4 linked regions of the Homo sapiens genome follow. The protein of the gene in region 1 interacts with the protein of each later gene in a pairwise test. Each region holds a gene or a part of one and is shown in the gene's direction. Other genes may lie near its edges.

What was found.
Region 2: the proteins of PRPF40A (region 1) and PLIN3 interact in binary tests that used the Homo sapiens proteins (3 or more experiments, as listed by UniProt).
Region 3: the proteins of PRPF40A (region 1) and FAM9A interact in binary tests that used the Homo sapiens proteins (3 or more experiments, as listed by UniProt).
Region 4: the proteins of PRPF40A (region 1) and SLFN12 interact in binary tests that used the Homo sapiens proteins (3 or more experiments, as listed by UniProt).

What each region holds. Positions count from the first base shown.
Region 1 is NC_000002.12:152,657,858-152,665,705, reverse strand, and holds part of PRPF40A (pre-mRNA-processing factor 40 homolog A), read left to right. Parts: intron 1-1,453; coding exon 1,454-1,568; intron 1,569-1,726; coding exon of another isoform or gene 1,727-1,738; coding exon 1,739-1,830; intron 1,831-1,934; coding exon 1,935-2,051; intron 2,052-2,533; coding exon 2,534-2,671; intron 2,672-3,007; coding exon 3,008-3,103; intron 3,104-6,349; coding exon 6,350-6,436; intron 6,437-6,516; coding exon 6,517-6,613; intron 6,614-6,696; coding exon 6,697-6,758; intron 6,759-7,685; coding exon 7,686-7,817; intron 7,818-7,848.
Region 2 is NC_000019.10:4,864,368-4,873,068, reverse strand, and holds the start of PLIN3 (perilipin-3), read left to right. Parts: upstream 1-5,401; 5' UTR 5,402-5,460; intron 5,461-8,701. UniProt on the Homo sapiens protein: Structural component of lipid droplets, which is required for the formation and maintenance of lipid storage droplets. Required for the transport of mannose 6-phosphate receptors (MPR) from endosomes to the trans-Golgi network.
Region 3 is NC_000023.11:8,798,384-8,806,890, reverse strand, and holds the start of FAM9A (protein FAM9A), read left to right. Parts: upstream 1-5,507; 5' UTR 5,508-5,580; exon of another isoform or gene 5,581-5,651; intron 5,652-6,681; 5' UTR 6,682-6,719; coding exon 6,720-6,810; intron 6,811-7,796; coding exon 7,797-7,925; intron 7,926-8,411; coding exon 8,412-8,507.
Region 4 is NC_000017.11:35,409,943-35,415,869, reverse strand, and holds the end of SLFN12 (ribonuclease SLFN12), read left to right. Parts: intron 1-3,942; coding exon 3,943-4,532; 3' UTR 4,533-4,948; downstream 4,949-5,927. UniProt on the Homo sapiens protein: Ribonuclease which is part of an E2/17beta-estradiol-induced pro-apoptotic signaling pathway.

The sequences.
Region 1 (7,848 bases):
CAGGTATGATAGAGTGAGGTAAGTTCTAAGGTACTAGAGCATCACTAAAGATGGTTTCCAAACTATTTTAGATACTCAGGGAGCAAGTGAGGAAGCTGGTGAGCACAACAAGAGTGGTTAAGACAAAATTCCATTTATGTTGAAGGGTAAGGGTAGTTGACAGAAGGGTAGATACAGGCAGGGTTTGAGAAAAGAATTTCCGAGTTGTAAGGGAGTATGGACATATTTAGTCTTGTTTGAAGAGGAGTGAGTGCAGTTGTAAGTGCCTGATGTTACTTTGGGACAGCTCTATCCAATAAAAATGTGAATGCCACAAATGCGATTTTAATTTCCTATTTATTTTAGTAATTTAACCCAATATAACCAGATATTATTTTAACACATCAATATTTTTAAAAATTGCTAATATTTGTGGTATTAAATCTTCAAGATCATTGTGTATTTTGTACTTAACAGCACATCACAACTCAGACTAGCTACATTTCATGTACCGAGAAGCTACGTTTGGTCAGTGGCTACCTTATTGAACAGTGCAGGTATAGGAATTGTGGGAACAGAATATAGGGTTACAGTTTCTTTTAGGCACATTTGTGTATAGCAGCGGTCCCCAACCTTTTTGGCACCAGGGACCGGTTTAGTGGAAGACAGTTTTTCTTGGTGGGGTGGGGTGGGGAGTTGGTATCATCAGGCATTAGATTCTCATAAGGACCACACAACCTAGATTCCTGGCATGCTCAGTTCACAATACGGTTTGCAGTCCTATGAGAATCTGATGCCGCCACTGATCTGACAGGAGGTGGAGCTGGGGCGGTAATGCTTGTTCCACCACTCACTTCTTGCTGTGTGGCTTGGTTCCGGTTCCGTGGCTGGGGGTTGGGATCCCCTGGTGTATAGGATTAAACTCCCTGAGGATTGGGTTGGAAGCAGGAAGTGTGGAAATTGAAACTAGATATGGGTTTGAATCCTAGGTCTCCAAACTACTTTGGGAAAATTATACATCCTCCTCTTAAGGCCCCTTGTTTTTTAAAAGTAAATAAAAATACCTAGAACACATTAGGCACTATTTTTAAAGACAGAAAGTATATATTTAAGGAAACATGCATATACATTCTTTAGCCTCATCATTTGAGGTAGATATCCAGTAATTTAAGTTAACTTTTACCTTTTTTTTTTTAAAGCTAAAAATTAGGTTCTATCTTAAAGGGTAGGAAATAGAACCTTAGGAAGATAATGTGCAGTTTCAAAAGTTATTTTCTCTAAAGGACAAAATATTTTTTTGCCTAGAGGCAGTTGTTACTTTGCCCAAATAGCAAATATTCTTTGTGCCCAAACAGGTTTGGGATAACATTGGTAGAAGAGTTTTAACTATGTCAAAGTTTTTGTGTGTTTTCATGTTAGACGCTTATTTCTCATGTACTCGAGATGACTTTCCAAATATAATTTTTCTCCCTAGATATTTTTAGATGAATTACATGAACATGGACAACTGCATTCTATGTCATCTTGGATGGAATTGTATCCAACTATTAGTTCTGATATTAGATTCACTAATATGCTTGGTCAGCCTGGTAAGATTATTTTCTTTCCTAATTTACCGTTATGGTAGTAGTTGAAATGGGCCAAATGCAAAGGTGATTGTGTTGGGGGAAAGGGTGCTTTATTTTTGTTTTTTAAACAACAAAGTAATTGCAGCTCTTTGGTTAGAGCTAGCTTTTGACTTCTTTAGTTTTTTCATTAGGATCAACTGCACTTGATCTTTTCAAGTTTTATGTTGAGGATCTTAAAGCACGTTATCATGACGAGAAGAAGATAATAAAAGACATTCTAAAGGTAAATATATTTATTCTTACCTTTTAACCAATAGTATATCTTAAAAGTTAGTACTGTATTCCTTTGATTTATGCATTATTAATGTTAAGATTTCTTTTTTTTAGGATAAAGGATTTGTAGTTGAAGTAAACACTACTTTTGAAGATTTTGTGGCGATAATCAGTTCAACTAAAAGATCAACTACATTAGATGCTGGAAATATCAAATTGGCTTTCAATAGTGTAAGTTATGTTTTCTGTTGTAAGTAACTAGTTTAGTAGTATAGTTTTTAATTTATTCAGATAAAAGCAGCTAAGTTGCAGAGTGTTGGAATAAGGGAATATGAATAGAATTTTACAGAGTGGTAGCCAGTCTTTCAGGTAAGGTAAAACAAAAAACTTTATTTAGATGATGGATTGATATTAAACTTCCTTTGCTCAAATTAACTGGTATTATACATAAAATGGCCATTATAAATCAGGCCTTGGGCCACACATAAAGTACACTAACGATAGCTGATGAGCTTAAAAAAAAAATTGCAAAAAATCCTTATAGTGTTTTAAGAAAGTTTACAAATTTGTGTTGGGCCACATTCAAAGCGGTCCTGGGCCACAGGTTGGACAAGCTCGTTTTAAACAATGCGTGATTCCTAAATTAACAATAAATTATTTCAGCTAATAGTTATGATACTATTATAACTGATTAAATATGATTTTCTTAATAGTTACTAGAAAAGGCAGAAGCCCGTGAACGTGAAAGAGAAAAAGAAGAGGCTCGGAAGATGAAACGAAAAGAATCTGCATTTAAGAGTATGTTAAAACAAGCTGCTCCTCCGATAGAATTGGATGCTGTCTGGGAAGATGTATGTATACTTGTTATTTTTTTCTAATGGAATTCTTTTCTTTACAGTTGAGAAATTTAAAATATTTTTATTTTTCATTTTATAGCCACAAAAATAAGCTAAATTTATTTGTAGAATATATTAAATATATTTAGAATATAATAAAAGCATTAAATCAGCTGTTGACTCTGTTTAGGAATATTTGTAAAGAATGGTTTGGACTTTTGAAGGGAGGAAATAATGGACTTTAAGGGGACTGATTCATCACAGTTTTCACTTGCTGTTATGATTTATTTTAGATGTATCGTTGTACTTTTCTTGGTATTCATATATTTATTTTGTATCTGAATTTTTCAGATCCGTGAGAGATTTGTAAAAGAGCCAGCATTTGAGGACATAACTCTAGAATCTGAAAGAAAACGAATATTTAAAGATTTTATGCATGTGCTTGAGGTAATTTTAGAATTCTCATATACAAAATATATAAAATATAAACAAATTGAAGAACTTAGAATGATGAAAGTATGTTGCTTAATATTCACTGCTTTTATACAAATGTACTTACCTGGATGGTTAGAGAATGGTTTTTTTCCTATAAAAACTGCTTTTAAGTAAAAGAAACTATTAAGTTTCCATGGGAATATAAAGATTTGTATGTGAAGACTGTTTTGTATTTTTAGAAAGTTTTAGAAATTGAGCAGTTTGGCAGCCACATGGATTGATTGACTAATAAAGAAAACTTGAAATTTTTCTTGTAAAGCAGATAGAAGACAGCTTTTAGGCACATTTGAGGTATTATACCACATTAGCTGTGTAGAAAAGAAAGTTTCTGGAAAGTAATGGAATAAATGGTAAGTTTTTGTTAAAATAAGCAATGAAACAATAACATCTCAGGTCACTTTAATAGGTAAGGTTCACTGGGCACGGTGGCTCACGCCTGTAAAACAAGCACTTTGGGAGGCCAAGGTGTGTGCTGATCACCTGAGGTCAGGAGTTTGAAACCAGCCTGGCCAACATGGCGAAATCCTGTCTCTACTAAAAATACAAAAAAATTATCAGGGAGTGGTGGCGGGCACCTGTAATCCCAGCCACTCAGGAGGCTGAGGCAAGAGAATTGCTTGAACCCAGGAGGCGGAGGTTGCAGTGAGCCAAGATCATGCCACTGCACTCCAGCCTGGGCAACAGAGCGGGACTCCTTCCCCAAAAAAAAAAAAAAAAAAAAAGTATTTTGATGACAGTTTCAGTTAGGCCCTTGTAAGTATGCTGAATTGACCAATAATTATTGAATAATAGTATTCGATGCCTATGTGGGCCAGTGTTCTAATTGCTTTATGTATATTATATTTATGAACTGAATCCTTTCAATAAGCCTGTGAAGTTAATAGGTGAACAAACTAAGGCAGAGAGAAGTAAAGTGACTTACAGGGTTGGAAGCCGGGCATGTTGACCTTGGTCAGTGCTTTTAACAAGTATGCCATGCTGTCAGTTTTAGAGTAGCTAATACTTTATAAGCTAAAAACTAGTAGGTGCTTAATATTACAGTGTTGCATTGTAAATGGGCATAGGTCACTAAATTGACTATTTCCTATTTCTTGATTTATTGTTCTTGATTAATATAATGTTAACCACAGTTTTTTCTGTACCATGTACTCACGAAGGCCCTGTATTGTTTCACAGCTGCCTCTAGATGTGGTCCTGTTGGCCTTTTTTTTTTTTTTTTTAAAGCGGGGTCTCTGTCATCCATCCACTCCTAGGCCAGAGTGCAGCGGTGCAGTTATGGGTCACTGCAACCTTGAACTGTTGGATTCAAACAATCCTCCTAAGTAGCTGGAACTGCAGGCACGTGCCATCACACTTGGCTTTTTGTGGGGCTTTTTTGGTTTTTGTTTTTATAAAGATGGGATCTTGCTGTGTTGGGCAAGCTGACCTCAAGCAAGTCTCCTGCCTTGGCCTCCTGAAGTACTGTGATTATAGGTGTGAGCAACCATGCTGGGCCTCTAGATCTTTTCTGTGCCAAATGTAGTGCATACCAGAAGCATCTGCATTACCTAGGAGCTTCTTAGGAATGCAGAACCTTAGGCCCCATGGGGCAGAAATCCTGCGTCTGACTTCATTTTAACCAGATTCCCAAGCATTAAAATATACATTTAATTTTGAGAAGCTCTGCTCTAGATAGTGACTAACCTATTTTCCCCCAGTTCAAGAGTCTACAGATTCTTTCATGATCTATACTGGGGGTAAAGTAGTTAGGTGGTAAATGGAGTAAAAATGGTACCATAGGGAAGGGCTGAACACATTCAGATTTTGGGGCCTTAATAATCTGAGGCTTGAGGTATTAAAGAAAGGTAGGTTAGCATTCAGTGAGATCAAAAGGAGAATAGTCCATTCTGAGATCCAGATTTTCCATTTCCACTTCTGTAACTGAGGTAGAATTTATTCTCAAAGCCATAGAAATGTTTAGGGGCAAGGAGCTTGTACTGTAGCACCCCCCATCACTGCTAACCTAGTAATTGTTTTAATAAGTAGAAATCCACAAAGACAGCATATGGATGTCTAACAATGTCTTGTTTGAGGAGGAAGGAAATGGCTCCTTGGGGGAAATGAAAGAGGGGTAGCAGATTTTGCATTTATTCTGACATCAGCCTTATATATCTCAATTCAAGGATGGCTCTCAGGTTGTTCTTTATCTTAGTGCTTGGCCTAACTTGCTGACCAAAGCCAGATTGATTACAAAAACCATGTCTGAGTGTCATTGTATTTGACTGTCATTAAAAGCAGATGTCACTGCATATTACACTTTTCTTCTAAATCACACCATTCTCTTCCTTAAAAAATACTTTTTCAGGCTGGGCACAGTGGCTCACGCCTGTAATCCCAGCATTTGGGAGGCCGAGGTGGGCGGATCACAAGGTCAGGAGATCGAGACCATCCTGGCTAACATGGTGAAACCCCATCTCTACTAAAAATACAAAAAATTAGCCGGGCATGGTGGCAGGCGCCTGTAGTCCCAGCTACTCGGGAGGCTGAGGCAGGAGAATGGCGTGAACCCGGGAGGCGGAGCTTGCAGTGAGCTTAGATCACGCCACTGCACTCCAGCCTGGGTGACAGAGTGAGACTCCATCTCAAAAAAACAAACAAACAAAAACTTTTTCAGCTGGGTGCAGTGGCTCATGGCTGTAATCCCAGCACTTTGAGAGGCCAAGGCGGGTGGATCACCTGAGGTCAGGAGTTTGAGACCAGGCTGGCCAACACGGTGAAACCCTGCCTCTACCAAAAATGCAAAAATTAGCTGGGCGTGGTGGTGTGCACCTGTAATCCCAGCTACTTGGGAGGCTGAGGCAGGAGAATTGCTTGAACCTGGGAAGCGGAGGTTGCATTGAGCCAAAATCGCACCACTGCACTCCAACCAGGGTGACAGAGCGAGACTTCGTCTCAAAAAAAAACAAAAACAAAAAAAGCCCTACTTTTTCTACTAACAGTTTTTAACATTGTTTTGTTTAGATGTCTAAATGAGTGGGTATAGGATGGGCAAGAAGGAAAAGAAAAAAAAATTGACAATTCTTCACAGTTTCAAGGGATTACATTTCTATATATTGTAGAGTTTTACTCTAAGAACTTACTTCCGTAGCTTTTTAAAGATTCTTTACAGTCTGTCTACAGTAAGTGTAAATTCTTGAAATTTTTTTTTTGTCCCCGTAGCATGAATGTCAGCATCATCATTCAAAGAACAAGAAACATTCTAAGAAATCTAAAAAACATCATAGGAAACGTTCCCGCTCTCGATCGGTAAGGGAATTTATTATATGGTGTCATGAGTGTATTAAAGTGTTAGCATTATTATGAATGAAATTATTTGTGTTTTTTAGGGGTCAGATTCAGATGATGATGATAGCCATTCAAAGAAAAAAAGACAGCGATCAGAGTCTCGTTCTGCTTCAGAACATTCTTCTAGTGCAGAGTCTGGTGAGCATTTCTATTTATTTGATTAAATCATTGACACTGATATACTCAAAGTCTGACACTTTTTATCCTTTTGTGCTACTCAGAGAGAAGTTATAAAAAGTCAAAAAAGCATAAGAAGAAAAGTAAGAAGAGGAGACATAAATCTGTAAGCAAGCTTCTAATTTTTACGTTTCACCTAGGCTTTTGCCCTTAACTTCCTCAGAGATCATAGAACCTTTTTCTATCTAGTTCTCTGCAGCCCAGGACAGTTCAGGTGGGCACATAAACTTAGAGTTTTGTTGTTGCTCTTCACCTTAATCTTCCATTAAAATCAATTGTTGAGCTTTGAAAAAATACACACACCAGTGTTAGGATCCCCATCCTGGTCTTTAAAATTAATATTCTAGAAAGAGACTCGTGTGTGTGCATGTGTCTCTGTGTATGTATGTATGTTTGTGTGTATGTGTAGATTGCAGCTGTTGTTGAGAACCACAAGTTTAAATGTTAAAACAACCACTCTACTCTTGCAGTTCTTATTCTTAGGTGTACATTAAGATCCACCTAAGGAACTTTTTGAAAATCTGAAGGCCTGGGTATCACCACAGACCTGTTGAATTACATTCTTTTTATTTGAATTTGTGCATATCTAATGAATAACCATTTAAGCACTAACGTTAAATTTTAAATAATTCCTACTCAGCAATTTCAAGAAAATAATTTTATTAATACAGCTGTCTGCCTTATGTGTTAAAGCTAACAGCAGTATACTATGTACATATATAAACCAATATTATATTGAGTTGGTGAGAAATGTAGTATCTGTCTGTATTTACATAATAGATACTACACATCTATTATGTGGTAGTAAGTCTCATGAGTGGTATTTTATCCTTCAGAATATTATCCTTCCCAAGGGAAAGCTGTCCCCATGAATCTTGGGTAAATTTTACTAAATCCTTGAGGTTAACAATTCACATTTTATTTCATCTCTCTAAGAGCACATAACCTGTTACACATAGATGTTCTTAAATATTACCTATATAACAATGGTATCTTCATCAAAATGCTAACCTGTTATTTTCTATTCATACAGGACTCTCCAGAATCCGATGCTGAGCGAGAGAAGGATAAAAAAGAAAAAGATCGGGAAAGTGAAAAAGACAGAACTAGACAAAGATCAGAATCAAAACACAAATCGCCTAAGAAAAAGACTGGAAAGGATTCTGTAAGTATTTAGAATTGTTTCATGCCTGTAT
Region 2 (8,701 bases), on another chromosome or scaffold:
GTGCTGGGATTACAGGTGTGAGCCACCATAGCTGGCCCCAGAAGTCTTAATGCAATCCTGCCATCCTGTGTCTGTCTCCAGGGCTGCCCAGCACAGGCTTGGCACACAGCAGGTGCTTAATTATTGTTTGTTGAATGACTGCATATCCAGTGAATCGCTGGCCTGGCTCACACTCAATAGGACATGCTTAAAAACGGATGGATGGATGGAGGGAAGGAAGGGTCAGAGGAGAGACAGGGAACACCTGTGCCAGGCAGGGACCCATCTGGGACCAGCAGTGCCACCTTGTGGCAGCATGCTCACCGCCGTTCCCCTCTTCTCAGTGAGAAAGAACTAGGCGTCCTGGCTGGGCGCGGTGGCTCACACCTGTAATCCGAGCACTTTGAGGGGCCAAGGCGGGTGGATCAGGAGGTCAGGAAATTGAGACCATCCTGGTTAACATGGTGAAACCCTGTCTCTACTAAAAATACAAAAAATTAGCCGGGCTTGGTGGCGGGCGCCTGTAGTCCCAGCTACTTGGGAGCCTAAGGCAGGAGAATGGTGTGAACCCGGGAGGCAGAGCTTGCAGTGAGCAGAGATCCAGCCACCGCACTCCAGTCTGGGTGACAGAGCGAGACTCCGTCTCAAAAAAAAAAAAAAAAAAAAAAAAAAAAAAAAAGAAAGAATTAGGAGTCCTAGAATTGGGAGGGGATGCAGAGGGAAGGAAAGAAGAGAAAGAGTAGAAAATGTCAAAAACAAAGACCTGCTGGGCGCAGTGGCTCATGCCTGTAATCCCAGCACTTTGGGAGGCAGAGGTGGGTGGATCACCTGAGGTCAGGAGTTCGAGACCAGCCTGGCCCACATGGCAAAACCCTGTCTGTACTAAAAATACAAAAATTAGCCGGGTGTGGTGGCGCATACCTGTAATCCCAGCTACTCAGGAGGCTGAGGCAGGAGAATTGCTTGAACCTGGAAAGCGGAGGTTGCAGTGAGCTGAGATCCCACCGCTGCACTCCAGCCTCACTTCCAGACGAAGTGAGACTCTCTCAAAAACAAAACAAAACAAAAAAACCCCAAAACAAACAGAAACCAAAGACCTTAAAGACACATAACTCAAGGTTCAAACCCTGGGGCTGGCAATTTCTGGCTGTGTGACCTGGGGCAAGTTACTCTGCCTCTCTGATCCTTAGTTTCCTGATCCAGAAAACAGAAATCACAGTTGGTTTACCTTGGCAGGCTGAGGTGGGCGGATCACTTTAGGTCAGGAGTTTGAGAGCAGCCTGGTCAACATGGAGAAACCTCATCTCTACTAAAAATACAAAAATTAGCTGGGTGTGGTGGCACGCGCCTGTAGTCCCAGCTACTCGGGAGGCTGAGGCAGGAGAATGGCGTGAACCCGGGAGGCGGAGCTTTCAGTAAGCTGAGATCGCGCCACTGCACTCCAGCCTGGGTGACAGAGCAAGACTCCGACTCAAATAATAATAATAAGAAGAAGTAAATAAATAAATAGCGCCACGTGCTGTGGCTCACGCCTGTAATCCCAACACTTTGGGAGGCAGAGGCGGGTGGATCTCGAGGTCAGGAGTTCAAGATCAGCCTGGCCAACATGGTGAAACCCCATCTCTACTAAAAATTCAAAAAATTAGCCAGGCGTGGTGGTGGGCTCCTGTAATCCCAGCTACTTGGGAGGCTGAGGCAGAGAATTGCTGGAAACCGGGAGGCAGAGGTTGCAGTGAGCCGAGATCGTACGGCTACACTCTAGCCTGGGCGACAGAGCAGAACTCCATCTCGAAAATAAATAAATAAATAAATAATAAAAGAAAATGGGAATCAGGCTGCTGAATAATGTAATGAAATAGCCCAGAAAACAGCAGCTATCTCATTTTTGGTTTTGAGACAGGGTCTTGCTCTGCTACCCAGGCTGCAGTGCAGTGGTGCAATCTTGGCTCACTGCAACCTCCACCCCTCCAGTCTCAAGCGATCCTTCCACCTCAGCCTGTGGAGAAGCTGGGATTACAGGCATGCGTCACCATACCCGGTTAATTTTGTATTTTTGGTAGAGACAGGATTTTGCCATATTGGCCAGGCTGGTCTTGAACTCCTGAGCTCAAGTGATCTGTCCGCCTTGGCTTCCCAAAGTGCTGGGATTACCGGTGTGAGCCACCGGCCAACAGTAGCTATTTCTTTTTTTCTTTTCTTTTCTTTTTTTTTTTTTTTGAAACAGAGTTTCACTCTTGTTGCCCAGGCTGGAGTGCAATGGCACAATCTGGCTCACTGCAACATCTGCCTCCCAGGTTCAAGTGATTCTCCTGCCTCAGCCTCCTGACTAGCTGGGATTACAGGCATGCGCCACCGCACCTGGCTAATTTTGTATTTTTAGTAGGGACGGGGTTTCTCCATGTTGGTCAGGCTGGTCTCAAACTCCCGACCTCAGGTGATCCGCCCACCTCGGCCTCCCAAAGTGCTGGGATTATAGGCGTGAGCCACTGCGCCCAGCCAACAGTAGCTATTTCTTACCTCTCACCCTAGGGCTGTGGGAGGCCAGGCGGGGACTCCTGGGCAGATGTTGCCATCAAGAAGAACCAAAAGCCTGGGAGATGACTCTGTCTCAAAAAAAAAAAACAACAAAAAACGGTGTGGGGCAAAATCACCAGGGCTCATCCCCTAGACCAGAGCTATTTTGTTACTCAAGGCCACTAAGAAGTTAAGGGTTAACAGGCAAATCTCCCACTGACCTTGAATCTTGGATGAGTCACTTCCCCTCTCTGAGCCATCCCAGCCCTCCCCTCCTCCCTCTCTCTCACTCACTGTACTCCAGCCACTGGGGCCTCCTCACTGTTCTAACAGGCAGGGTGTGGTCCTGCCTCAGGGCCTTTGCACGGACTGTGCCTGCTGCCTGGAATGCTGTTCCCCCTAACTGGACATGGTTCCCTCCTGGCCTCTCTCTCTTCTCTTCTTGGATGTCACTCAGAAAGGCCTCCTCTGACCTCCCTACTAAAAACTGCGGCCCCACCGGGTGTGGTGGCTCATGCCTATAACCCAGCACCTTGAGAGGCCAGGGCTGGTGGATCACATGAGGTCAGGAGTTCGAGACCAGCCTGGCCAACATGGTGAAGCCCCGTCTCTACTAAAAAAAAAAAAAATACAAAAATTGGCCAGGCATGGTGGCACAGGCCTGTAATCCCAGCCACTTGGGAGGTCGAGGAACAAGAATTTCTTGAACCTGGGAGGCGGAGGTTGCAGTGAGCCGAGATCGTGCCACTGCACTCCAGCCTGGGTGACAGAGTGAGACTCTTTGACAAAAAACAAGAACAAAATCCCCGCATCCCCCACATTCATCTCGTCCTTTGCTGTCCTACCACGTGACACATTGTAAAGTTCTCTCACTTATGTTGTTCCTTGTTCGTCTCTCCCACTGGGTAGTGTGTGTCACCAGGGCTGGAATTCTTATCTGTTTAGCTCACCGCTGTCCCCAGCGCAAGGACTCAATAAATATGGTTGAATGAGTGAATGAGAAGGAAAAAGCCTGTTACAAATGTCATGGAATGGGGTCTCAGATTCACTTGAGAATCTCACTAGCTGCCTGAAGTTACTTAAATTTAAACATTCAGGCCAAGCGCGGTAGCTCACACCTGTAATCCCAGCACTTTAGGAGGCCGAGGCAGGTGGATCACTTGAGGCCAGGAGTTCGAGACCAGCCTGGCCAATATGGTTAGTCCTCGTCTCTACTAAAAATACAAAAATTAGCTGGGTGTGGTGGCGCGCGCCTGTAATCCCAGCTACTTGGGAGGCTGAGGCAGGAGAACCGCTTGAACCCGGGAGGTGGAGGTTGTAGTGAGTCGAGATCGCGCCATTGCACTCCAGCCTGGGAGACAGAGCGAGACTCTGCCTCAAAAAAAAAAAAAAAATTTAAACATTCAGCTTCTCACTGTGCATTAGCCACGTGGTGCTTTTGGCTACAATGTTGGATGGCACACAATTCTAGAATTGCAGAAAGTTCTATTGGACAGTGCTAGCATAGACCCTGTCCCCACTCACCCCCCCAAAAAAATGCAGTCACAGACACCCAATTTTTCCCATGTTCTTTCTAAAGCTACCAGAAGCTTCATTCTATTCAAATAATTTGGCAGAGGTGGCAAACTGGTGGCCCCTGGGCTGGACAAAGCCCCAGTTGGGTTTCATTTGGTCCAATTGTTCCCTAACAGGCAGGACATGTCTACAGCTTGAACTTCCTGTGGATCTGTGACTCTCCAGGTGGGTCTCCCATAGGGCACTGCTCTCCCCTGCCCCTCTAAGCAGGGCATCACTGCCACCTCCTCAGCAGAAATATTCACCTCCTCCCTGGACCATCTGAGATTGAGACCTTGGTTTATAGACCAAGAGGATAAATAATTTGGGAGGTGGAGAGGGGCGGGGTAAAATCCAAGTGGGGGCAGCTTCAGGAAAAGGTTGATCCAGCAGTCACAGAGCCTGGAGCCTGACCCCTCCATTGCCCCTGGCTGACCCTCTCCAGGCCTCAGTTTCCTTCTCTGCAAAATAGGGATGATTAAAAAGACAATACAGTGCTGGGAGGATGAAGTGGTCTGATGTTGGGCAGATCAGGCCGGAGGCTGGACAAGTTCCCGTGGTGGTTCAAGTCACTCATATAGCTGGGTTGGGCCGGGTGCGGTGGCTCATACCTGTGATCCCAGCAATTTGGGAGGCCCAAGCGGGCAGATCACTTGAGGTCAGGAGTTCAAGACCAACATGGTGAAACCCCGTCTCTGCTAAAAATACAAAAAATTAGCCGGGCGTGGTGGCACGTGTCTGTAATCCCAGCTACTCAGGAGGCTGAGGCAGGAGAATCGCTTGAATCCAGGAGGTGGAGGCTGCAGTGAGCCAAGGTCGCGTCACTGCACTCCAGCCTTAGCGACAGAGCGAGACTGTGTCTCAAAAAAAAAAAAAAAGTGTGTGTGTGTGTGTGTGTGTGTGTGTGTACATATAGCTGAGTCGGAGCCCATGGTGGAGGGCGTGGCCCCTGACGCGCTGGCGAGGGTCACCCTGCAACTCTCCCAGGGTTCTCGCAGCCTCAGTTTGGCCATAGGGGAAATGGGCGACCTGGGGAATCCCAGCACCTGTGCGGCGCCCCCGATCGCACTCACCTCCCAGGGCCAACTTCACAGGGTCCCCAGCTGCGGAGCGGGGGTCCCGTGGCTGGGACAGGCGTGGTCCAAGAGTGCTCCCTCCCCTTCAGGGGCAGGGCGTGGAGTCCTTCCCGGACTTCATGACTTGGCGAGGGGCGGGGCCTAGTGGAGGCGGGGCAGGGAGGAGAGGGGCGGGCCTGGCGCGGGCAATCCCTCAACCTGATTGGTCCCCTCGCCCGTCACTCCAGTGCGCCCCCAACCTACCACGCAGTAAAAGCCACCCCCGCCTCGGCCCGGACGGTTTCCAAGCTGGTTTTGAAGTCGCGGCAGCTGTTCCTGGGACGTCCGGTTGACCGCGGTGAGTGGCGGGGGCGTCTCAGTTGAGCTGGGGGGCGGTGTCCATGGAGTCCTGGGGCACCCCAGGGGCCGGAGGGGTCGGGGAGGGCCTTTCTCGGGGTGGGATTTGCTGGACTCTGCGGCCTGGGGAGGGGTCTTCAGCCCAGGCTGGTCACCCCTCCCCCCAGAAAAATCCAACTTCTGCAACGAAGCTCAGACTTTGAAACCCTCTTCTCACTTCCTGGGACTTTTGAGGGGCGAAAGAGCCCCGTAGAAGGGGTGATATTGAAGGGGGTGGGCTAAATACCGCCCCCCGCCCACCAGGTTTTCTCTAAATTTTGAACAGTTTGCTTTTGGAAACGCCATTTGCAGGCAAGTTTCCTCCTGCGGGCAGAATCTCCGCCCTCCCTTCTGGGGTTTTCAGAGACACCCCCCGCCACCGCAAAGCCCCCTCCCCTACAGATGGTTTTGCCACGGGTGGGGGTGGGGGTTGCCCCAGCTCCTGGCGCCCCCAACTGATTCTGGGGAGGTCTTGGGCAAAGCCTGCCCACTTCCCTCGGGTGGGCGTGGCGACGAGGTGGCTTAAAAGTAGGAAGGCCTATCCGTTAACTGCTTTGGGGTTCTTGTCCCGGCTAGGCCTGGCAGTGGGACCTGGGGCCCTTGGAATTTTGGAAGTCCAGTCTTAGCATGCTCTGAAGTTGCTGGATGGCTGGGTCTGGCCTGGAGCTCCCCTTCTGGAGCCAGCGGCAAGGCAGGTCACTGACCCCCAGGGGTTTCATAGGGTGTTGACATCTGCCATGGCCACCCTTGCTTAAACCAGTTCCAGGAAGTCATGGTGGACAGAGGGGACGGGAGGAAGCTGCCTGAGTCCTAAGTGGGACTTGAGAATCGGTCGAGGCCAGGAGTTTGATGCCTGCCTACCTGGCCCCCTGCCCAGGTGAGCTCAGGCTCCAAAGGAGGTGAGGAGAAGCACAGATTTAGGCAATGATCACTGGGAGGTAGGTATGTCTTCTCACCTGACTTCCCAGTTGGGGGACTTTTGTACCTAGCAGGAAGCTGGTTCCTGGCTGGCTTTACCCCTTTGTCCGTGGAAGCCAGAGTGCGGTGAGATAGTTTATGGAGCACTTACTATGTGCCGGGCACGGATCTGAGCTTCCCCGGAGCAGCGTCTCCTCCAGTCCACAGGGACTCCAGGCTCTTGTGAAACACTTATACACATTTCACAGATGTGGCAAGCAAGACTCCTAGGGGATGCTGCCTTCCCAAACTCCTATTCCTAGTGAGTTGCCAAGCTGGGATTAGAACCCATTCTGGGCTGGGCAGGATGACTCACGCCTATAATCCCAGCACTTTGGGAGGCTGAGGTGGGCGGATCATTTGAGGTCAGGAGTTGGAGAACAGCCTGGCCAACATGGTGAAACCCCACCTCTACTAAAAATATAAAAATTAGCCGGACGTGGTGGCGGGCACCTGTATTCCCAGATACTCTGGAGGCTGAGGCAGGAGAATCGCTTGAACCTGGGAGATGGAGGTTACACTGAACTGAGATCACGCCACTGCATTCCAGCCTGGGCGACAGAGCAAGACTCTGTCTCAAAAAAAAAAAAAGGCCGGGCATGGTGGCTCACGCCTGTAATCCCAGCATTTTCGGAGGCCGAGGCGGGCGGATCATGAGGTCAGGAGATCGAGACGATCCTGGCTAACATGGTGAAATCCCATCTCTACTAAAAATACAAACAATTAGCCAGGCGTGGTGGCGGGCGCCTGTGGTCCCAGCTACTCGGGAGGCTGAGGCAGGAGAATGGCGTGAACCGGGGAGGCAGAGCTTGCAGTGAGCTGAGATCGCGCCACTGCACTCCAGCGTGGGCGACAGGGCGAGACTCCGTCTCAAAAAAAAAAACAAAAAAAAAAAAATGGAAAGAACCCAATCTGGACTCCAGATCTAGTGCTTGCAAAACATCATCATTTTGCTGGGTTCTGCTTAGGGGACATCGAAGCAAGGCCACCAGGAGGTGGGGCCTCATTCCTCTGGGAAAAGATGCTCAGACTCAAGGCCACAGGTTCTTAGGCTCACACCAGAATTCCCCAGGAAAGCAGCCCATAAGACAGGCATGACCTTTAGCCCCATGTTTTTTTTTTTTTGAAACGGAGTCTCCCTCTGTCACCCGGGCTGGAGTGCAGTGGTGCGATCTCGACTCACTGCAACCTCCACCTCCCAGGTTCAAGCAATTCTCCTGCCTCAGCCTCCTGTGTAGCTGGGACTACAGGTGTCAGCCAAAATACACGGCTAATTTTTGTATTTTTAGTAGAGATGGGGTTTCACCATGTTGGTCAGGCTGGTCTCAAACTCCCGACCTTAGGTGATCTGCCCGCCTCAGCCTCCCAAAGTGCTGGGATTACAGGCGTGAGCTACCATGCCTGGCTTTTTCTTTTTTCTTTGAGATGGAGTCTTCCTCTGTCACCCAGGCTGGAGTGTAGTGGCGCAGTCTTGGCTTACTGCAACCTCCGCCTCCCAGGTTGAAGCAATTCCCCTGCCTCAGTCTCCCAAGTAGCTGGGACTACAGGCGCCCGCCACCACACCCGCACCTAATTTTTGTATTTTTAGTAGAGACAGTGTTTCAGTATGTTGGCCAGGCTGCTCTTGAACTCCTGACCTCATGATCCACCCACCTCAGCCTCCCAGCGTGCTGGGATTACAGGTGTGAGCCACCATGCCCGACCCTTTAGCCTCATATTACAGGTAAGATGACCGAGGCCAGAGGAGGGGAAGGCGCCTTGCTCCAGGGAGCATAGCGTAGGTGGAGCTGGGACTCCTGGCTTCCCCCTGAGAATCTCTTCTGATGATGGTGTCCCAGCTTCATTTCACTAGTCCAGGAAAAGGGAGTTGTGGCTTCATCCCGCTTACATAGACTCACCTGGGGAACCCCGTCCTCCCCACACCCCTGACCTGGACTTCATAGCTCTGCGGTGCAGGCAGGCATGTTATCTCACTTTTTAAAAAAAGCCTAAATTTTGGCTGGGTGCGGTGGCTCACAGCTGTAATCCTAGCAGTTTGGGAGGCCAAGGTGGGCAGATCCCTTGAGCTCAGGAGTTCAAGACCAACCTGGGCAACATGGCAAAACCCCATCTACTAAAAAACAAACAAACAAAACAACAACAACAACAAAAAAAAAAACAAACCACGGCTGAGTGCAGTGACTCATCCTGTAATCCCAGCACTTTGGGAGGCTGAGGCGGGTGGATCACGAGGTCAGGTGTTCAAG
Region 3 (8,507 bases), on another chromosome or scaffold:
TTGCTGTAGGGACTTTGTACAGTGTAGGGTGCTTAGTGGATCCCTGGTCTCCACCTGCCAGATGCCAGTAGCCTGCCCCCCTCCCCAGTTGTAACAGCAAAAACTAGACCTGGCCAAATATCCCAGGGAGGGGGCACAAAGTTGCCCCTGATTGAGAACCACTGACGTGCAAAAATAAAACCTATATTATCTCTTGGCTTATACCCCAAGATATTGTGCCCAAATATCTTCAACTTTATCTCCTAAAACTATAACTCACACAGACTCTGGAATCTCTTATAGTTCTACAAAAGATTTACTCTTTCCAAGTATACCCCACCTTTGATGACTCCCAGACTAAAGTGCCCCATTTTTCTACTTTTTGTCCCCATTTTCTACTGGAATACCTTTTTGTCCTTATCCTTCCAAACTAATCTCAGATAATTTCTCCTGTTGTAAAATCTTCCCTGTCAACACTAAAGATAATTTGTCCTTCTTCCTTATGGATCCTACATCACTTACTATCTATTGTAGCACTTGTCACTGTAATTTCTTCTTTTCACAAATGTTTTAACCTGACCACTACTACCACCTACTTACAACTTTTTGAGTTTAGAAAAGAGATTCTATATACTTAGCATGTAGTACAATGCCCAACACATACTAGGAGTCTTGACAGCTATTAGATAGACGAATAAGGGAATGACTGAATGAGTGAATGAATGAATGACGTCACATCCTTCTCTCCCCGGCATGGAAATATGTTGCATGTTCTGCATGCAGAGTGAGTTGCCGGCTTCATGTCAAGAGGGAATCCCCCTTTAAGAAGAGAATCTGAGCTGCTGTTCCTGAAACTTCCTGAAATCCCACCTGTTCCTGAAACTTGCTCTATTGAGACTTGAGTTTCAACTTGATGCTAGAGAAAGTTGTTAAAATTTATTTTTTTAATTCATTGATGGATGCATCTCTAATGTCCCAGTCATAAAAATAATCTTATATTTAACAAATCCCAGTTATAAATATTTTGCGTGGGGCTCTGCTTAGCATCTTGATGTAAAATTTATACCTAAGTCTATTTTGGCAAACATCAAATTAAACTTGTAAGTATAAAGGAAATCAGAGTGTCCTTGACCTCCCAAGGCTTAGATGATCAGCAGTTTTTAAATGACATTCCTTGAAAGCGAACTTTGATTTTTTAAGCACTGGGCCTGAGGCTGTAATCAAAGGCACTGATGATATTTAGATGATTTAGAAGAGCACAAGCTGATCTGCCATCATTCAGCTTGCAGGATACATTTATCTTCTGTAAGCAGTATGAAACACCTTTGTTTTTGTATTGATTCTATTCCTTTAGAAAATTATAGGTTTTGTCTTGTTATGTTGCCTACAGTCAAAAGAAACGATTATGGAATTTACAATTACAGGAAGGAGGTCATTAAAGCGGGCCAGGTTGGTTTTATCGAGGCTCTGCTTTACTTCTATTGGAACAATTTTATGCACGCAACAGCACATCAAATAGAATGCACCAGAGGATGATTTTAGGAACTTAGTTAAAAGCCCTCTCAGGATTTTGCATACATTTTAAATAATACTCAGCTAAACACATAATCACATGTTTCTCATATACTTTCAAAAATCCCATATGGTTAGAAATTGCTGCCAGATTTCCCTGTGTTGATAAACAGAATGACATTTAATTAAACAGTCCTGAAAAATACTTTCTTTCTTGACTTTATACTCAGACAAGTTAATAAAGTCCCCATTTCAGATGACGAAATGACACATTGCCTGCTCCTATTCCAGTTTTCTGCCTCAAATGTCTTCCTGGAGAGACTCCATGTATGCCAGCCTTCTCAAGGATTTAAGAGTATTAAACCAAGGTTAGATGGTAGCTAGTGTTCTTTGATCTCACTGTACACATTGTTATTCATTTTTTTCTTCTTCTTTTCTTTTCTTTTTTTTTAGATATGGCGGTCTCACTATGTTGGCCAGGTTGGTCTTGAACTCCTGGCCTCAAGCAATCCTCCCACCTCAGCCTCCAAAGTGTTAGGATTACAGGTGTGAGTCACCACACCTGGCCTGGTTGGTATTGATTTTTAAAAAGTGATTTGTTACTTGTTGTCCATGAAACTTGGTGTGCTCTAAATAGGTTGTTTGTTTCACTACATGACATTCCATATACTTACCATCAATTCCAATTAATAGGAATTCCAATAGAATGGCTGAAACAAATTGAGTAGAACAATTACTAACTCCTTTAGACATTATTATGTTAGGCTGAACTATTTTCTACACTGGCTCTATCTATGGGTCATTGCATCTGGCTATTTAGATGGCAAGGAAATGTAATTGAACCAAAAATCCTAGTCATTGAGCAACGGGCTGTTTTTGTTTTGCTTTTTACCTGCCAGCTGGTTCCTCATCTTTGAGGTTTGCCCTGACAGCTCTGAAGCTTGGGTAATATACAACAATATAGACAAAGTAAGGAAATAATTAGGTTGTATGATAGTAATACATTCCCATCCTGAAAACCACAGTTTTAAAATATTCCTATTGTTTCCCCTGTCCTCTGCTCATTTGACAGTTACCAGGAGCTTTGGGCAGACGGGGAGAGAAGTGCATATGTTGTCATCTGACGCTCTGCTGCCTCCATAGCCCATGTTAGCAATTAGCATGGTGTAGATTAAGTACAACTACACAATAGTCATCAATTCCCAATGTTATCGATACATTAGAAAGGGGCTCTGATTTCCAATTAAGTACTGAATAATTGAAAGAAAAATGTGTTGTTGCAGGTTGTTGAGAAACACCTCTACCTCCATTTACCCTTTCATTAAGAAACAGGGATAAAAAATATTGCGATATCAGGATATCTAGAATTTGGAAGATGTGGAATCATCCTGATGAGTCCAAGGACAATCCAGAAAATCAGCTGTGATTCAGACTCCGGTGTGCCCCGTGGAGGCCATGGGTCATCCAGGAGCCTTGTATACCTGGAGGATGAGGAGCCACCTGGGGGGAATTCATTCTAAGGTAAAAAAATGTCATCCTGGCATAGTGACTTCGACCCAGTTCAAAAGCCCGCGTTGTTGAAGAGGAGCCGAATTCTAGGCATGGTGTGTTTACAGTGAGTGCTGTGTTTCCCAGATTTTCCATCCACAAGGATCTGAACTTTTTAGGAAGAGAGAGAGAGAGAGAGAGAGAGAGAACTCAGAATAACAGCTGAATGAGCCACTCTTTGAGAGTGCAGTAGTAGGTTAGCTCAGCAGGTCTGTGTTGTCCAAACCCTGCACTTTCCAAAGAAAGGTCTGTTCTTTGACAGCCTTCCAGGGGATAACCTCTAAACCCTTGGAATATCCTGCCTGATCATAACGTGTTTGTTTACCTGGAGCTTTGAGTCATGCTAGACAGTTAATGCTGATGATTTATAGTGGGGGCTTTGGGCCACCTGTATCAGTCTTGACCTCTGGAGGGGCTGGTGACTAATTTCGGTCATGCAGACAGTCGGCCATGCCTACATGCTCCCAAAACCACACTGGATGTCAGGCTTGGGGGAGCTCCCTGGGCAGCAATGTTCTGTGCAGGTTTCCTCACATCACTGCTGGGAGAATTAAACATCATTTGGTTCCATTTCCCAGCTGCTGAAAAACTGTAATGTTGGGAAGAAATTAATAATTCAGCTTAAATCCAAAGGAAGAATGTTGATTGTGTAGATTTTGTAGAATTTTTTTTAAAATGTTGAGGGAAGAAGGGAAGACCAACTATGTAGAAAAGGGAGCCTTTATTATGAACACACAACTCTTTAAAACAAGTGAAGTAATACCCATGTAGAATAAAAGCAAAGAAAAAAGAAACAATTCAGATAATCATCACATAAGAACACTTATATGTTTTATTTTATCTTATTTTATTTATTTTATTTTATTTTGAGACAGAGTCTCCTTGTGTCACCCAGGCTGGAGGGCCATGGTGCGATCTTGGCTCACTGCAACCTCCGCCTCCTGGGTTCAAACGATTCTCGCGCCTCAGCCACCCAAGTATCTGGGATTACAGGCGTGGTGCCACCCAGTTTTTTTTGTAATTTTGGTAGAGACGGGGTTTCACCATGTTGGCCAGGGTGGTCTCGAACTCCTGGCCTCCAGTGATCTGCCCGTCTCAGCCTCCCAAGGTGCTGAGATTACAGGCATGAGCCACTGCACCCAGCCACTTACATGAAACATCTGACTGCATTGCTGAATTCAAAATATCTGAATATGTTATACAGAAAAATGTTTTGGAAATCTAATGAAAATTAATAACGAAATACAATGTTCTACTTACAGTCATTGTTGACTTATCTTAATAATTTGTTTGTTTTGTAATGTGACAAAATAGATCTATATTGTTCATCTTGTCAAAAATATTTATGTGCAGAACTGTATTTTAAAACAAGCAAGTACAAAAGGAAATAAATTAAAGTACACGAATATTTTATTACCTCTCAAAATAGCCTGACTTGAAAAGACCATCACTCCATGGCCAATGGATCTACTTGATCCTGAAATAACCGAGAGTGGGGTGTATCTGTTACTATCAGCAGGTCAACCTTACAGCAACAAGAAGAAAGGCCTTTGACAACCTGATGGTCACTCCTGGGATTTCTATGGCTAACTTAAGTGGCAAGAACTAGCAGGAAACTAGTTGACTTTTTTTGAAGAAAGAAATGACAAAAGTTTCTCAATCAGTACCTTTTAGTCATCATTTCTTGGAAACAACTATACATCATACAGTTGATGCCTTTAAAGACACGACTTTGGGTATGGGCTCAGTGGCTCATGCCTGTAATCCCAGCACTTTGGGAGGCTGAGGCAGGTGGATCACTTTGATGTCAGGACTTCGAGACCAGCCTGGCCAACATGACGAAACCCCGTCTCTACTAAAAATACAAAAATTAGCCGAGAATGGTGGCACGCACCTGTAATCCCAGCTCCTTGGGAGGCTGAGGTGGGAGAATCGCTTGAACCCGAGAGGTGGAGGTTGCAGTGAGCCAAGATCTTGCCACTGCACTCCAGCCTGGGCGACAGAGAGAGACTCCGTCTCCAAAACAAACAAACAAGCAAGCAAAAAACATAAAAGCACAATCCATTGATAAAAAGGGTGCAGCTGGACATGGTGGAAACACACAGGGCATGGGAGGGAGCCTGGGCTCCACCTGCAAGGCGAAGGCCATTCTAGCCAAAGGGGCAGGGGTGGCTGGAAGGAGCTCGGGGGCGAGGTCCTAGGCCCCGTCCACTTGGCTTCCATCCCGAGTCCTTGCATCCCTCCCCAGGAGGAGGCGCTGAAAACTTCTGGGGACAGAGGCCCCAAAGAACCACCACCCACCCCAGTCCACAGCAAATATGGGTGGTCCCTTACGGAAAGAGGGAAGGCGTGTCAGCAGGGGTCGTGGCCCCCAAGGTCCTTCACCCGCATGCGCATGCGCACTTAGCTGACCAATCAGAGAGGAGCGTGGATAGCCAGGGCAGCTGCTCTCGCGAGAACTGAGGACCCATTTTTCTAAGAGAGCGTCGTGGTGCCAGTGCCTGCAGGTTCTGTGAGGAAGCGGCATCAGGGGTCCCTCAGGTGAAGCGCTCGCGGTGGGGAGGCAGGAAGTCGAGCATGCGGCCCTCTCGCAACCAGGGTGTGAAGCGCAGGTGAAGCGCTCGCGGTAGGGAGGCAGGAAGTCGAGCATGCTGCCCTCTCGCAACCAGGGTGTGAAGCGCTGAGCGGCCGGCTGACCTGCACACGGGCAGCCCGAGACCCCTGGCCCCTTCTTGGCTTTGGAGTCCACCATGCACGTGCTAAGAGGCCCCAGGTTTTCAAAGCAGGAAATGGCCCTGGCATCGTTGCCTGGGGCCTGGGTCAGGGCGAGGCCCTGAGGGTGGGCTGGGATGGGCCAGGGCAGGGAGGGAGCTGGAGACACCTGAGTGATCCCCAGGGCCCAGGAGTGTCCCCGGGACTTGTGCATGTGTGCAGTGGGTAGGGGTGGGGCAGGGGAGGGGGGCTTGGGGGAATGGAGGGGGTGGAGAGGGGAGCAAGGGAGGGGTGGTGGCAGAGGGTGGAGGGTCGGGGAAGTGGCAGACAGGCAGGGGCCGGGTGTGGGGCCAGGGATGGGGGCAGGGGAGGGGAGGGGTGTGGGGTTCGTGGGGTGAGGGGATGGGGGAAGGGGAGGAGGAGGGGCGGAGTGTGTGGGGAGGCGACAAGCAGGGGTGTTGTGGGGGACAGTTCGAGTGGGTCCCTCCAGCCCGGCCGCCCGTCAGGACAGGACACTTGGGGTCACGAGGGGTCACCTGGGCATCCAGGCAGGCAAGTGGCAGTGCAGCCCCTGACATTCCCCCAGAGATGGCTGGGGAGGTCCTGTGACACCCGTGGTCCTCCGGGCCACGCAGGTCTCTGGGGCACACAGGGGCAGGGCTGAACTCTGTCCCAGGGACACCGCAAGGATCCTGCAGGGGCCATTCAGGTGTGCGAGGCAGCTGTGAGTTCTGCAGCCAGCCCCAGGGACGGGCTGGACGGGCCACGAAGGATAGGAGGGGACACTGGCATCTTCTCCGACCCCTCCTGCTCCCACAGGATACACGGGGTGGGCCAGCCCCACCCTTTCTTGAATCCGAGATCCCGTTGGCTCTCCTTTCACATATCCTGTTTCCTTAGCTTACTTAGTTTGACTTTGCACTCAACCAGGTTCAGGGATCGCCTCTAACTTCCCAGGACAGCCAACCATGGAGCCCGTGGGCAGGAAGCGCAGCAGGAAGGCTGCCAAAGCTCAGTTGGAAGCTCAAGTTACGGCCGCCCAGGGGGCCACGAAAGAAGGTGCACGCCCAAGGAGATGGTCTGTTTGCTCTCTGCGCGGGGGGCACATGGGCAGCCCGAGACCCCTGGCCCCTTTGTGGCTTTGGAGTCCACCATGCACGTGCTAAGAGGCCCCAGGTTTTCAAAGCAGGAAATGGCCCTGGCATCGTTGCCTGGGGCCTGGGTCAGGGCGAGGCCCTGAGGGTGGGCTGGGATGGGCCAGGGCAGGGAGGGAGCTGGAGACACCTGAGTGATCCCCAGGGCCCGGGATTGTCCCGGGGACTTGTGGATGTGTGCAGTGGGGAGGGGTGGGGCAGGGGAGGGGGGCTTGGGGGAATGGAGGTGGTGGAGAGGGGAGCAAGGGAGGGGTGGTGGCAGAGGGGGGAGGGTCGGGGGAGTGGCAGATAGGCAGGGGCCGGGTGTGGGGCCAGGGATGGGGGCAGGGGAGGGGAGGGGTGTGGGGTTCGTGGGGTGAGGGGATGGGGGAAGGGGAGGAGGAGGGGCGGAGTGTGTGGGGAGGCGACAAGCAGGGGTGTTGTGGGGGACAGTTCGAGTGGGTCCCTCCAGCCCGGCCGCCGGTCAGGACAGGACACCTGGGGTCACGAGGGGTCACCTGGGCATCCAGGCAGGCAAGTGGCAGTGCAGCCCCTGACATTCTCCCAGAGATGGCTGGGGAGGTCCTGTGGCACCCGTGGTCCTCCGGGCCACGCAGGTCTCTGGGGCACACAGGGGCAGGGCTGAGCTCTGTCCCAGGGACACCGCAAGGATCCTGCAGGGGCCATTCAGGTGTGCGAGGCAGCTGTGAGTTCTGCAGCCAGCCCCAGGGAGGGGCTGGACGGGCCAGGAAGGATAGGAGGGGACACTGGCATCTTCTCCATCCCCTCCTGCTCCCACAGGATACACGGGGTGGGCCAGCCCCACCCTTTCTTGAATCCGAGATCCCGTTGGCTCTCCTTTCACATATCCTGTTTCCTTAGCTTACTTAGTTTGACTTTGCACTCAACCAGGTTCAGGGATCGCCTCTAACTTCCCAGGACAGCCAACCATGGAGCCCGTGGGCAGGAAGCGCAGCAGGAAGGCTGCCAAAGCTCAGTTGGAAGCTCAAGTTAGGGCCGCCCCGGCGAAGAAGCACACAGGTAAACACAGCCCAAGGGGCCAGAAAAGAAGGTGCACGCCCAAGAGGACGGTCTGTCTGCTCTTTGCGCGGGAGGCACATGGGCAGCCCGAGACCCCTGGCCCCTTCGTGGCTTTGGAGTCCATTGTGCATGTGCCAAGAGGCCCCAGGTTTTCAAAGCAGGATCGAGGGCCTTAGGCTTCCCGTGGGAGGCTCCCCCTCATAGCAGGGTTACAGATGCTCGCAGAGCAGCTCTTCTCCATGGATGCGGTCCTGACATCCAAGGGGTCTGACTTGTGAGCGTTGTTTACTAGGACTTGAACCGGAAGGGCTTCCAAAAATGCCTCGGTAAAACGGTCCGGAGCCCAGTGATTCCATGCATAGCTCTGCTTTAAAGCTTTAATTGGTAGAGAGCCAAAAAAGTCCACAAATAATAAGTTTCTCTACAAAAGATGTCCACAACAGCGTCTTCCTCTAAAAATGGTTTGTCTTTTACATTTTAATGCAGGAAAGGATCCAGTCCGTGATGAATGTGAGGAAAGAAACCCTTTTACAGAAACAAGGGAGGAAGATGTAACTGATGAGCATGGGGAAAGAGAACCTT
Region 4 (5,927 bases), on another chromosome or scaffold:
TTGCCAACATCTATTATTTTTTGACTTTTAATTATGGCCATTCTTGCAGGTGTAAGATGGTCTCATTGTGGACTTAATTTTCATTTCCATGATCATTAGTGATGTTGAGCATATTTTCATGTTCATTGGCCATTTGTATATCTTCTTTTGAGAATTGTCTATTTATATCCTTTGCCCACTTTTTGATGGGATTCTTTGTTTTTTTCTTGCTGATTTGTTTGAGTTCCTCATAGATTCTGGATATCAGTCATTTGTCAGATGCATAGGTTGCAAATATTTTCTCCCACTCTGTGGATTGTCTTTTTACTCTGCTATTTCTTTTGCTGTGCAGAAGCCTTTTAGTTTAGTTACTTCTCATCTATTTATTTTTGTTTTTGTTACATTTGCTTTTGGGTTCTTGGTTATGAACTCTTTGCCTAAGCCAACGTCTAGAATTGTTTTTCTGATGTTATCTTGTAGAATTTTTATGGTTTCAGGTCTTAGATTTAAGTCTTTGATTCCTGTTGGGTTGGTTTTTGTATAAGGTGAGAGATGAGGATCTGGTTTTATTCTTCTACATGTGGCTTGCCGATTATCCCAGCACCATTTGTTGCATGGGGTGTCCTTTCCCCACTTTGTTTTTGCTTGTTTTGTTGAAGATCCAATTGAACTGTAAGCATTAGACTTTCTTTCAGTGTTCTCTATTCTATTCCACTGGTCTACATGCCTATTTTTATATCAGAACCATGCTGTTTTGGTAACTATAGCTTTGTAGCATAATTTGAAGTCAGGTAATGTGATGCCTCCAGATTTGTTCTTTTTGCTTAGTCTTGCTTTTGCTATGTGGACTCTTTTTTGGTGCCATATAAATTTTAGGGTTATTTTTTCTAGTTCTGCGAAGAATGATGATGGTATTTTGATGGGAATTGCATTGATGTAGATTGCTTTTGTCAGTATGGTCATTTTCACAATATTGATTCTACCTATCCATGAACATGGGATGTGTTTCCATTTGTTTGTTTCATCTATGATTTCTTTCAGCAGTGTTTTGTGGTTTTCCTTGTAGAGATCTTTCACCTCCTTGTCTAGGTATATTGCTAAGTATTTTATTTTATTTTGCAGCTGTTGTCGGAGGGATTGAGGTTTTGATTTGATTCTCAGCTTGGTCACTCTTGCTGTATAGCAGTACTAATTTGTGTACATTGGTTTTGTATCCTGAAACTTAATGGAATTCATTTATCAAATCTAGAAGCTTTTTGGATGAGTCTTTAGGGTTTTCTAGGTATACAGTCATTTTTCTGTGAAAAATGACATGGGAATTTTGATAGGGTTTTCGTTGAATCTGTAGATCACTTTGGGTAGTGTGGACATTTTAAAAATATGATTTTTTCAATCCATGAACACAAGCTATCTTTCCATTTATTTGTGTCTTTTCCAATTTCCTTCATCAGCATTTTATAGATATCAGTATAGAAATCTTTCATCTCCTTGATAACATTTATTATCAAGTATTTTTTGTAGCTATTGTAAATGGGAGTGTTTTCTTGATTTCTTTATAGGATAATTTGTTGTTAGTGTATGGAAATGCTACTGATTTTTGTATTCTGAAAATTTACTGAATTCTTTTATTTGTTCTGATCATTTTTTGGTGGCATCTTTAAGGTTTTCTATATATAAGTTCACATTGTGGGCAAACCGTGACAATTTAATTTCTTATTTTCCAGTTTGGATTCTTTTTATTTCTTTTTTCTTCCCTAATTGCTCTGGCTAGGACTTCCATATTGGATAGAAGTGGTGAAATGGGCATCCTTGTTTTGTTCCTGATCTTAGATGAAAAGCTTTCAATGTTTCACCATTGAGCATGGAGTTAGCTCTAGGTTTTTTATATATGGTCTTTGCTGTGGTGAGGTACATTCCTTCTATACCTAGTTGGTTAAGAGGTTTTTTTAAATTACAGAATGTTGAATTTTGTAAAATGCTTTTTCTGTATCCGTTAATATGAGCATATAGTTTTGCCCTTCATTTTATTAATGTGGTATATCACAATTATTGATTTTCACATGTTATACTATGCTTGCATCCCAAGGATAAATCCCACTTATTATGATGAATGATCTTTTTTTTTCTTTTTTTTTTTTTTTGAGACATGGTTTCACTCTTGTTACCCAGGTTGGAGTGCAATGGCGCTATCTTGGCACCCTGCAACCTCCACCTCCCGGGTTCAAGCGATTCTCTTACTTCAGCCTCCCGAGTAGCTGGGATTACAGGTGCCTGCCACCATTTCTGGCTAATTTTCTGTATTTTTAGTAGAGACGGGGTGTCACCATGTTGGCCAGGTTGGTCTTGCACCCCTGACCTCAGGTGATCCACCTGCCTTGGCCTCCCAAAGTGCTGGGATTACAGGCGTGAGCCACTACACTGGGCCGAATGATCCTTTTAATGTGCTGTTGAATTTGGTTTGCTAGCATTTTGTTGAGAATTTTTGCATCTAGTTTCAACAGTGATATTGGCCTGTAACTTTCTTTTTTTTTGTAGTGTCCTTGACTGACTTCATGATCAGGGTAATGTTGACCTCATGAAATGAGTTTGGAAGTATTTCCTCCTCTTCAATTTTTTTGGAAGAGTCTGAGAAGGATTGGTATACTCTTGTATTTGTGAGTGATATCTTTAATCAACTTTGAAAAAACTATAATTGTTTATCTCTTCAAATATTGCTTATCTTATTTTTCTCTCCTTTCTCTTTGTGGGACTTATAAATTTGCTAGACCTTTTGACAGTTTCGGATATATCTCTTATCTTCTGTTTTTACCTTTTTTTTTTTTATTGAGTTTGAGTTCGGACTTTTGCTACCATCCTGTCTTCCTATTGACTAGTCCTGTTTTCTGCTATGCTCTGTCTGCTGTTAAATATTATCAAATAAGTTCTTATTACCACCTACTGTATTTTTCAGTTAAGGAATGCCCACACAATTTTTATCCCTCAATTTTAGTTTTTCTAAGGCTGTAAGAGAATAAGGACATCTTCATCTTTTCATCTATTTTATTATTATTTTTTGTTTTTAAATATATTACAGTTAAAGTCCCTCTTTGATAACTACAATATCTGAAGCACTTGTCAGTCTTTTTCTCTGATCTGATTTTTCTCCTGTTTTCTAGTAATTCATTCTGATTTTTATTCTGTCTCGTAATTTTTTATTGTATCATGGATTACAAATTGTAGAGACTTTGATAGATATTACATTTCTCCAAAAAGGGCTATATTTACTTCTGACAGGTAGTTAGAGTACCACCCATTGCTTTTATTCTTTTGAAGTTTTTTTATCCTTTTCTAGGTATAATAGTTTTTAATTTTGCCGTTACTACTAGGTCATGGCTTTTCTATTGCTGTAATGTCGCTGGTGTTTACCAAGATCCCTCCACTCTTTTGGGACTGGAATTCCAGTCTGTGTTTCCTGAGCACCATGAGGCTGAAGAAACTTACATTCAGCTCTTTAGTCTCCCAGTTGATATTTTCTTCTGTGTTTCCAGCATCTGACCTGTATTAGCCAATGAGTTGAGGGAAATTTGTATGTAGACTTTGGCTTCTTCTCTGCAGCTTCATTTTCTCTGAGATTTTACTTCTCATATTCCAGCTCTTCTTACTTCTTTTCCTCAGCCTAATAAGACTGATGATTTCTCCTTGGGTTCTATTTACCCATGCCATGATATAGAAAATCTACTTAGGGAAAAAGCAGGGGTGAATGTGAAGCTACTTTCTGTGTTTCACCTCTATCAAAGACTGTGGCACTTCAAATACTGCTTTTATTGGTGCTTTCTAGTTCTTTAAATTATTGTTTGAATATATTTTATACAACTTTTACAGTGTTTTTGATGGGAAGATTGGTTTTTTACAAGCTACTTTGCCATGGCTTAAATGGGAACTTCCTAGTGTTTTATAATTTATTATTATTATTTCCTTATTCAGGGCTATCAGGAAGGATAACGTATACTCCAGAAAACCTTTGCAGAAAACTGTTCTTACAACATGAAGGACTTAAGCAATTAATATGTGAAGAAATGGACTCTGTCAGAAAGGGCTCACTGATCTTCTCTAGGAGCTGGTCTGTGGATCTGGGCTTGCAAGAGAACCACAAAGTCCTCTGTGATGCTCTTCTGATTTCCCAGGACAGTCCTCCAGTCCTATACACCTTCCACATGGTACAGGATGAGGAGTTTAAAGGCTATTCTACACAAACTGCCCTAACCTTAAAGCAGAAGCTGGCAAAAATTGGTGGTTACACTAAAAAAGTGTGTGTCATGACAAAGATCTTCTACTTGAGCCCTGAAGGCATGACAAGCTGCCAGTATGATTTAAGGTCGCAAGTAATTTACCCTGAATCCTACTATTTTACAAGAAGGAAATACTTGCTGAAAGCCCTTTTTAAAGCCTTAAAGAGACTCAAGTCTCTGAGAGACCAGTTTTCCTTTGCAGAAAATCTATACCAGATAATCGGTATAGATTGCTTTCAGAAGAATGATAAAAAGATGTTTAAATCTTGTCGAAGGCTCACCTGATGGAAAATGGACTGGGCTACTGAGATATTTTTCATTATATATTTGATAACATTCTCTAATTCTGTGAAAATATTTCTTTGAAAACTTTGCAAGTTAAGCAACTTAATGTGATGTTGGATAATTGGGTTTTGTCTATTTTCACTTCTCCCTAAATAATCTTCACAGATATTGTTTGAGGGATATTAGGAAAATTAATTTGTTAACTCGTCTGTGCACAGTATTATTTACTCTGTCTGTAGTTCCTGAATAAATTTTCTTCCATGCTTGAACTGGGAAAATTGCAACACTTTTATTCTTAATGACAACAGTGAAAATCTCCCAGCATATACCTAGAAAACAATTATAACTTACAAAAGATTATCCTTGATGAAACTCAGAATTTCCACAGTGGGAATGAATAAGAAGGCAAAACTCATTTTCTCAAAACAAAACTCCAGGAATTCTCTGGATCTTCTTGAGCTACTTTCACACTATTTACTTGGAAGGGTTGTGGATTTCCTAACTGGTCAGCTAGCACCTTTAAAGAACTCACAAGAATGGTTACTTTATTTTTCTACAAGCAGTTCTGAATAAAGAAGCGTGAGATGACAAAATATGGAAAATCCTCTCTAACTAAGATTTGAAGGAAAGCAGCCAAGGTATAAGTAGAAACTCTTTTAGACAACGAGAGTTTTCATCAACAAGAGGAAGGAGCACCAGGGTCTGGCATTTCCCACTCATCTAAGATGAGCTAAGGGACCAAGATGAAGCTCAGCAGAGTGGGATACACCCTTGGCTGGGTGTTCTGAATTCATGCCTAAGACCTTCAGTGGGATCTTGGAACAGAGAATAGAGCCTAAATTACCCATCAGGGCCTCAGCCTTCTCCACCACTGTGTCCAATGCCAGAGGAAGTCGATCAATGCATTCAGTATTCTGAGAAAAGTTTTACTAACACATATTTTGCCAAACGAGATGATGTTTGACTATAAAGGAAATAGGCAGACATTCTTATCAAAGGATATAGGGAACGGAACGTAGTTCTCTTCTACCTTCTTGAAAACTATGTTACAATGAAATCCAGCCAATGAAGAGATGAATCAAAATGAAGAACCTAAAACGAGAGCATACTTGCACTCCTGGAGTCTCTCTCCAGCCCTGAACTGTGGCCAGCACAGTGTGTCAGCCTGTACCAGCTGCCGGTATGGGTGACCTGGGCACAGGCAAGGCCATCATCATCACACACTGTGTGCACCAGAACTCCTCTTGGCATCTCCAAGCCAGTTCACCATTGTGTGAACTGTGCACTGAAGGAGCTCCACTGGGACTCAGAGGCCTTGGCACAACTGCAGCTGTGGAACATTGCGATGAGGAAAGATTGGGAAAATGACAAGAGCCCATTGTCTGGAATTCATAG